Homo sapiens: one gene and its partner. The protein of the gene in region 2 purifies or fractionates together with the protein of the main gene of each other region. This does not show direct contact. Each region holds a gene or a part of one and is shown on either strand. Other genes may lie near its edges.

The links. The genes of interacting proteins can lie anywhere in the genome.
Region 1: the proteins of IAH1 (region 2) and NT5DC3 fractionate together in Homo sapiens (co-fractionation; one large-scale study listed by BioGRID). This does not show direct contact.

The regions. Positions count from the first base shown.
Region 1 is NC_000012.12:103,782,235-103,785,734, forward strand, and holds part of NT5DC3 (5'-nucleotidase domain-containing protein 3), read right to left. Parts: coding exon of another isoform or gene 3,442-3,500; exon of another isoform or gene 3,374-3,441; intron 3,242-3,373; coding exon 3,101-3,241; intron 1-3,100.
Region 2 is NC_000002.12:9,484,280-9,487,653, reverse strand, and holds part of IAH1 (isoamyl acetate-hydrolyzing esterase 1 homolog), read right to left. Parts: intron 3,223-3,374; coding exon 3,104-3,222; intron 1-3,103. UniProt on the Homo sapiens protein: Probable lipase.

The DNA of each region.
Region 1 (3,500 bases), on a different chromosome or scaffold from region 2:
GGTGCACACCTGTAATCCTAGCTACTCAGGAGGGTAGGCATGAGAATCACTTGAGCCTGGGAGGCAGAGGCTGCAGTGAGCTGAGATCATGCCACTGCACTCCAGCCTGGGCAACAGAGTGAGACTGCCTCAAAAGAAAAAAAAGAGAAGAATTTCCTAACATGTAAAAATTACATGAAAGTCAAATTTCAGTGTCCACCAATAAAGTTTATTGGGACACAGCTACAACCATTCATTCACATACTGTCCACGGCTGCTTTTGTGCTACAAGTGCAGAGGTGGGTAGCTGCAACAGAGCCTACAGCCTGCACAGCCTAAAATATTTACCATGTGGCCCTTTGCAGAAGCTTGCTGACCTGTGGTCTAAATGTGGCCTCTGACTGGTTGGTTACCTGAGAAGCGGCTACCAATGCCAGCACCACCACCATGAACCACAGCCATTTTGGAATGCACTTCAAGGCTAACTAATGAAATTACAACCAAAATTTATATACTTCTATTTCATTCATGAGACTCGGCTCCAAATGACACTCTGTGAGGTCAGGAGTTTGAGACCAGCCTGGCTAACATGGTGAAACCCCATCTCTACTAAAAATACAAAATTAGCTGGGCGTGGTGGCACAAGCCTGTAGTCCCAGCTACTTGGGAGGCTGAGAGAGGAGAACTGCTTGAACCTGGGAGGTGAAGGCTGCAGTGAGCCAAGATCGCGCCACTGCACTCCAGCCTGGGCGACAGAGCAAGACTCCATCTCAAAAACAAACAAACAAACAAACAAAAAAATGACACTCTACTGGCTCTGAAAAAATCAAACCCAATCTCAGAGGACCAATTTTTCTCCTCAGAAAACTGTCCAAATAATGTGCTACATGCTCTGAAAATAATCCCCAAGGGGGAGTTCTAGAAACATCTACCACAGGCTCAGTGGAATAACTTATAACTTTCTAAGGGAACACTGAGGAAGAGGGTGACAGTGAGATAGGACACTGATTTGGATGTTTTTTTAGTTAGCAGCTATACACCTCTATATCCTAGTGAATCCAACCTGACAGAACTCTGTACAAAGTGCCAGAACCCAAGGCAATCAATATAGGTGCACAGAGGTTAAGGGTCTAGAGTCGGTCGGCCTGTGTGTAAACACCAGCATCACCCCTCACTAGAGCAAGTTATATCTCCTCTGCGCCTCAGGGTCTTCATCAGTAAAATGGCAGTGATGTTTCAGAACTACTTCAAAGAGTTTCTGTGAAGATGAAATGAACTTAAAGGTCTCAGTGTCCAGAACACGGTAAGTTCTTACGACATTTCTACATAGCCTGATTCTGCCAACCGAGAACTGTGATTCTAGAAAAGTCACCTATCTCGCTGTCTCAGTTTTCTCTCCTGCAAAATGGGGGCAGCTATGTAAACCTCAACTCCCTTTTCTTCCTTCCCTTACCCCACACCTCATATAATTAATTTTACAAACCACAGAAATATTTTCAGCACTTCCATTCTCTAAAACACACATTCCTTAGTAGTCAACTTTTTACACAGGTCAGAAAAAGGAAAACAAAATAAAACCAAAAAAAAAAAAAACCTCTTTCCAAAGCTAAAATATACTGATACCATCTACGTGCAGTTGTGTTTGTACCTATGACCAGCTGCCAGGGTCACAGAGATTTCACTGAGGGTGAGTCAAGCCTTGCCTATACCCGAATCCTCTAAACAGGAAGGCACATTAGAGCAGTGCTCTGAAGCATGGACTTGGGGACTTGGTTCAAGCCCTGCCCTGCCATTTTATGACCTCAGACATGAATGATACCTAACCTCTCAAAAACTGTTTCCTTATTCTAAAATGGGAAAATTGTACCTACCTGCAAGGGACAGCTGTGACTATTAAATGAGCAAAGTGTATAGAGCCAGCACTCAGCACAGTGTCCAGCACATAAAAAGTAACTATTAGTAGTGTATGACATGCACAGACTCTAAACTACACTAACTCAGAATTGACACTGTATATTTTTAGTAAATCATCTCACAGACAAGCATAGCGAGGGAAACAGAATAAATCCTCATCAGAGGATTCTCATCAGAGAAGAGCCAAGAACTAATGGAGCCCAGTGCATCCTGGAAACAAGGCCCAGGGGGACGTGCAGGGCCCCATGCTCTGGAATGCATGCACCTGGAGCCAGAATCTGGCCTGCCACTCATGGCCCTGCCTGATCTCACTGCTCAGCCACTCCCAAGCAGAGTGCCAGCTGGGGCAGGCAAGGCAATTCCCTGCCCATTTCCAAAGCCAGAGGGCAGGCATGGGCAATAGGCTGTGGCCACAGGTTGCAGGTGTGTTAGCCAAGAGAGCAAGCACCTGTGCCCAGATCCTAAAAATGTCAGCACCCATGCTGAGACGGCTGTAGCCCAGGCAAGCTGGAGCCAGGGAGAAAGCAAGGTGCCTCATGGAACTGGAAAGGAAAGGGGCACATGGAGAATTAAGGGGATACAGCTACAAAAGAGAGGCAGCTTCCATGGGCCAGGAAACGACTGATAAAACTGCCATTCCTCACTTACCAGCCAAAACTGGCTGCCTAACTTAACTTAAGGAAGTAACTGCCAGGGAACTCCAGTAAGCCAGCAAACTGCAGGTATTATCCTCAGAATCAACTGAGGCTGGACCCAGGGATCTTGACTCTTGCTTTGAGACTCTTTCCAGTAAGCCATGGTGCCTAGACTGAAGTTTTCGTTCCAGCGGCCCCTTTATTTCACAGATGGGGAAACTGAGGCCCAGAATGGAGAAGTCCCACCGTAGCAGGTGCAGACAGAACCAGCACAGACTCAAGCACTGGCAGGGCTTCCTGAATCCCAGCATCCCACAGGAGAGCTCCTAGCAGGCTTCAGTGTGGAAGTGAGGACACTGGATCTTCACTGACAGAGGAATGTGAGCAAACACCTGCATTAACAAAGGCCCCACAAACACTGTCTAGGCAAAAGAACCCCAATCGTTATTCTACAGTCTACTGAAAACAACTTAAGCCTCATATTTTATAACAATTAAGCAGAAAATACCTGAAGTAACTTTCTAACCTCAGGCTTAAAGAAAAAGTGAGAGAGAAAAATAATATATCCAAACCTGCATCTGTTCCAATAAGCCAGTCAAGGTCTGCAGCCAGGTCATGGTTTGAATGTATTGCTCCGTGTTCATGATTTTGAGCTCAGATCTCAACTCTGGGATGATTGCACCAGTCCTCCAGCCATGCTTTAGGGTCAAATCCTGATCACAAAGATCACGAAAAGTCAACGTCAGTCTCAACAGAATCTAAACTATGTCATTATTTTCCCAGACATGAGAGGCATTCATTTAATTACTTTTTGATGGTAATGGTTAGTTATTCACCAAGCTGAATTCAATGAATTACATTTAATTAAAACCTATTTGGCCCCAGCCTTTGATCATTTCATTCCAAGAAAGTTTCAGTTCTGGAAATAATTGCCGTGAGTCACAACCCCTGCAGAAACACTAGGTCTGGAAT
Region 2 (3,374 bases):
GCACTGATGTGCTATTTACGTAGGTGTTTGAACACACAGAGAACCCTGACTAGTGCTATAGTGCTGTCTCCATATTATAGAATTGAGTTTCATGAAAGTCACTCACCATTAAGTGAGCTGGGACCTCATTCCAGGTCTTCTGAATCATATGACATGATTCTCAGGTTATTTGAAAGAACCTTAACAGGTAAATATGGCCTATTAACGTAATCAGCAAAAATGAAAAATTTGGTATTAGGAGTGTTCAGGGGCCCCATGAGTCAATATTGTTTTTGACTCTAGGCAGGTTTTTAGGCAGAAAGAACTTCTACCATCTAACCTAGAACAGTAATTGCTGGGACACAGGAGTCCAGTCTCCCTCCCATTGCCCTGAACTCAAGAGTACATATTTAAAAAGATACACATATTTTTGGAGACAGGGTCTTGCTTTGCTGCCCAGGCTGGAGTGCAGTGACATGATCATGGCTCACTGCAGCCTCAACCTCCTGGGCTCAAGCGATCTTTCTAACCTCAGCCCCCTGAGCAGCTGGGACTACAGGCACGTGCCACCATACCTGGCTACCTGGCTAATTTTTGTGCTTTTTGTAGAGATGGGTCTCTCATTATGTTGCCCAGGCTGGTTTTGAACTCCTAGGCTCAAGCAATACTCCCACCTTGGCCTCACAAAGTATTGGGATCACAGGCATGAGCAGCCATACCAGGCCCTGAACTATAAGAATTTTACCCATACAGCCATTTCTTTCTTGGGGAAGAATCTCACTAGCCAAGAGCTCTGTTAGAATCTGGGTGGCCAACTAGCTTATGTGACTTTTTTTTTTTTTTTTGAGCTAGAGTCTCACTCTTGTTGCCCAGGCTAGAGAACGATGGCACAGTCTCGGCCTAATTCAACCTCTGCCTCCCGGGTTCAGGTGATTCTCCTGCCTCAGCCTCCCAAGTAGCTGGGATTACAGGTGACTGCCACCACGCCTGGCTAATTTTTGTATTTTTAAGTAGAGATGGGGTTTCAACATGTTGGCCAGGCTGGTCTCGAACTCCTGACCTCAGGTGATCCACCTGCCTCAGCCTCCCGAAATGTTGGGATGATAGGCATGAGCCACCGCGCCCGGCCTTATGTGACTTTTAATAGACCAGAAATTTAGATGCTATCATATAATAGTAGCACTTCTTCTTCGGCCTTGGTTTTCTCATCTAGGCAGTTTGAGATGAGATGATCTCTAAGGACGACCCTCTCAGTTTTGTATTAAATTGAAAAAGACATGTGAGCAAAACTAGCCCAATAGTTTGCAGTTTCCTTTCCTAGACAACAGAACTCTAGATGTCGACCCTTTTGGCACTCAAGCTGCCAAGGCCCCTCCTAATCTGGAATTCTGGAAGGTTCCAGTACTCCAGGGTTTCAGAGGAAGACTAGAGGCCTAGGGTCCAGATCTGCTTAGGCTCTCAGGGCCTCCAAAGGTGACTGGTGACTCGGCATCCACGTGGTAGTATGACTTTCCCACTGGTGACCATTTTCCCTATTACAGATGGATAATAAATGTGTAGGTCATTGGAACGATTGGTATGGATTAATATTTAGGGGAGAGGAAAAAGTTGGCACTTGGGTTAGTTTCTTGGCTGTTTTCTATGTTGCTTTGTCCAAGTAGCCTAAACCTAACAGCTAGGAATAGAGGAAACCGGTGAGGCTGTGAGTCTTCCCGTTTGTCCAAAGAGCTTCCCGCACACTGGATCCTTCCTTCCCTTGAGTACTTCAAATATCATCAGTCCCGTCCAAGCTTTCTCTCTGGATCCCAGCATAGCAATGAAGTAGCCTTTAATGTGCCCTACTGAACAAGCTCTTTACAAAAGAGTAGCACAAGGTCACAGAAAAATTAAAAAAGACCAGTGCCTGTCTGCCCCTCTTCACCAGTATCTGTGTGGAACCTGAATTTAGCCATACCTTTCCTTGCCCTAACCTCTGGCCACCATGGACCTGTTCTGTTACTGCAGTCTTGCCTTTTTTTGGGGGGTGGGCTGGGGAGGGTGAGACAGTCTCCCTGTATCCTCCAGACCGGAGTGCAGTGGTGTGACCTCTGCCTCCCGGGTTCAAGCGATTCTCACACCTCAGCCTCCTGGGTAGCTGGGATTACAGGCGCGCTCCACCATGCCCAGCTAATTTTTGTATTTTTAGTAGAGACAGGGTTTCGCCATGTTGGCCAGGCTGGTCTTGAACTCCTGAACTCAGGTGATCCACCTGCCTTGGCCTCCCAAAGTGATGGGATTACAGGTGTGAGCCACCACACCCAGCCCAAGTCTTGCCTTTTTGAGACACCAAAACAGATGGACTCATGTAGTAAGTAGCCTTCAGAGACCAGCTTCCTTCCCTCAGTGAAGCGCCTCGAGAGTCACCCACGTTGCTGCGCTTGTCAGTTCCTCCTCTTTATTGCCGAGTAGTATCCCATTCCACGGACACACCAGTTTCCCTATTCATCACAGAAGGACACTGGCGTGTTTCCAGCAGGTAGGAATAATGCTGCTGTCAACAGTTACACCCAGGTTCTGTGTGAACATAGTTTTCATTTCTCTAGGGCAGATAACCCAGGAGTGGACTGCCAGGTCCTCCCTAAGTGTATGTGTGACTGCGTCAGAAACCAGCTGTCTCCTGAGTCAGTGCACCATTCCATGGGACCTGCTTTTTACCTTTTATATTTGTGCTTTCAGGCTTTAAAACAAAGTAACTTAATTAGAACTACATATCTCAAACAGTTTTATTAGCCAATACTGTATTTAAATTCATTGTTTTACCTATTAACAAGTTTTAGCTTTCTGCCATTCTCTGTATGAAAGAAGAACTTGGCCTGGACGTTCATAAATATGAGCCATGTGTTGCTCATTGATGTCACTGCGCACTAACTCCTAGCCAAGGAGCCTGGCTGAATTAAGCTGCTGGGCTTGTGAGCCATCCTGGAACCTCCATTCCTCCCCTCCCCCAAGCCTGTTTGTTTTCATTGGCTAAAGGGATGACTGTCTTAGCTAAGCAGGGCCTTTCTAGGGAAAGCTGCTGCACACACACCTGGTTTACTTCTGTGTGATCCTATTTACCCCGAGAGGACCGAGCAAGCCACCGTACCTGGCTGTCCTGCATCAGGGTCCACAGGTCAAGTACGTCAGTCCCACAGTCTTGGGCCACTTGTAAACACGCATTGGCATATTCACCAACAACAGAGTTCAGGCGATTTAGTTTGCAACCTATTGAAGAGAAGAAATAGAGGTGGCAGTTGGTAAACCCAAGTGCTGGCCCTTGTGTAAGTTCTGCTCCACTCATCTAGACAGTTTCAAAATGCCATTAAATATTGACCCCACTTGGGCCAGCCCCGGGGTTTAGGGTATATGTTGATGAG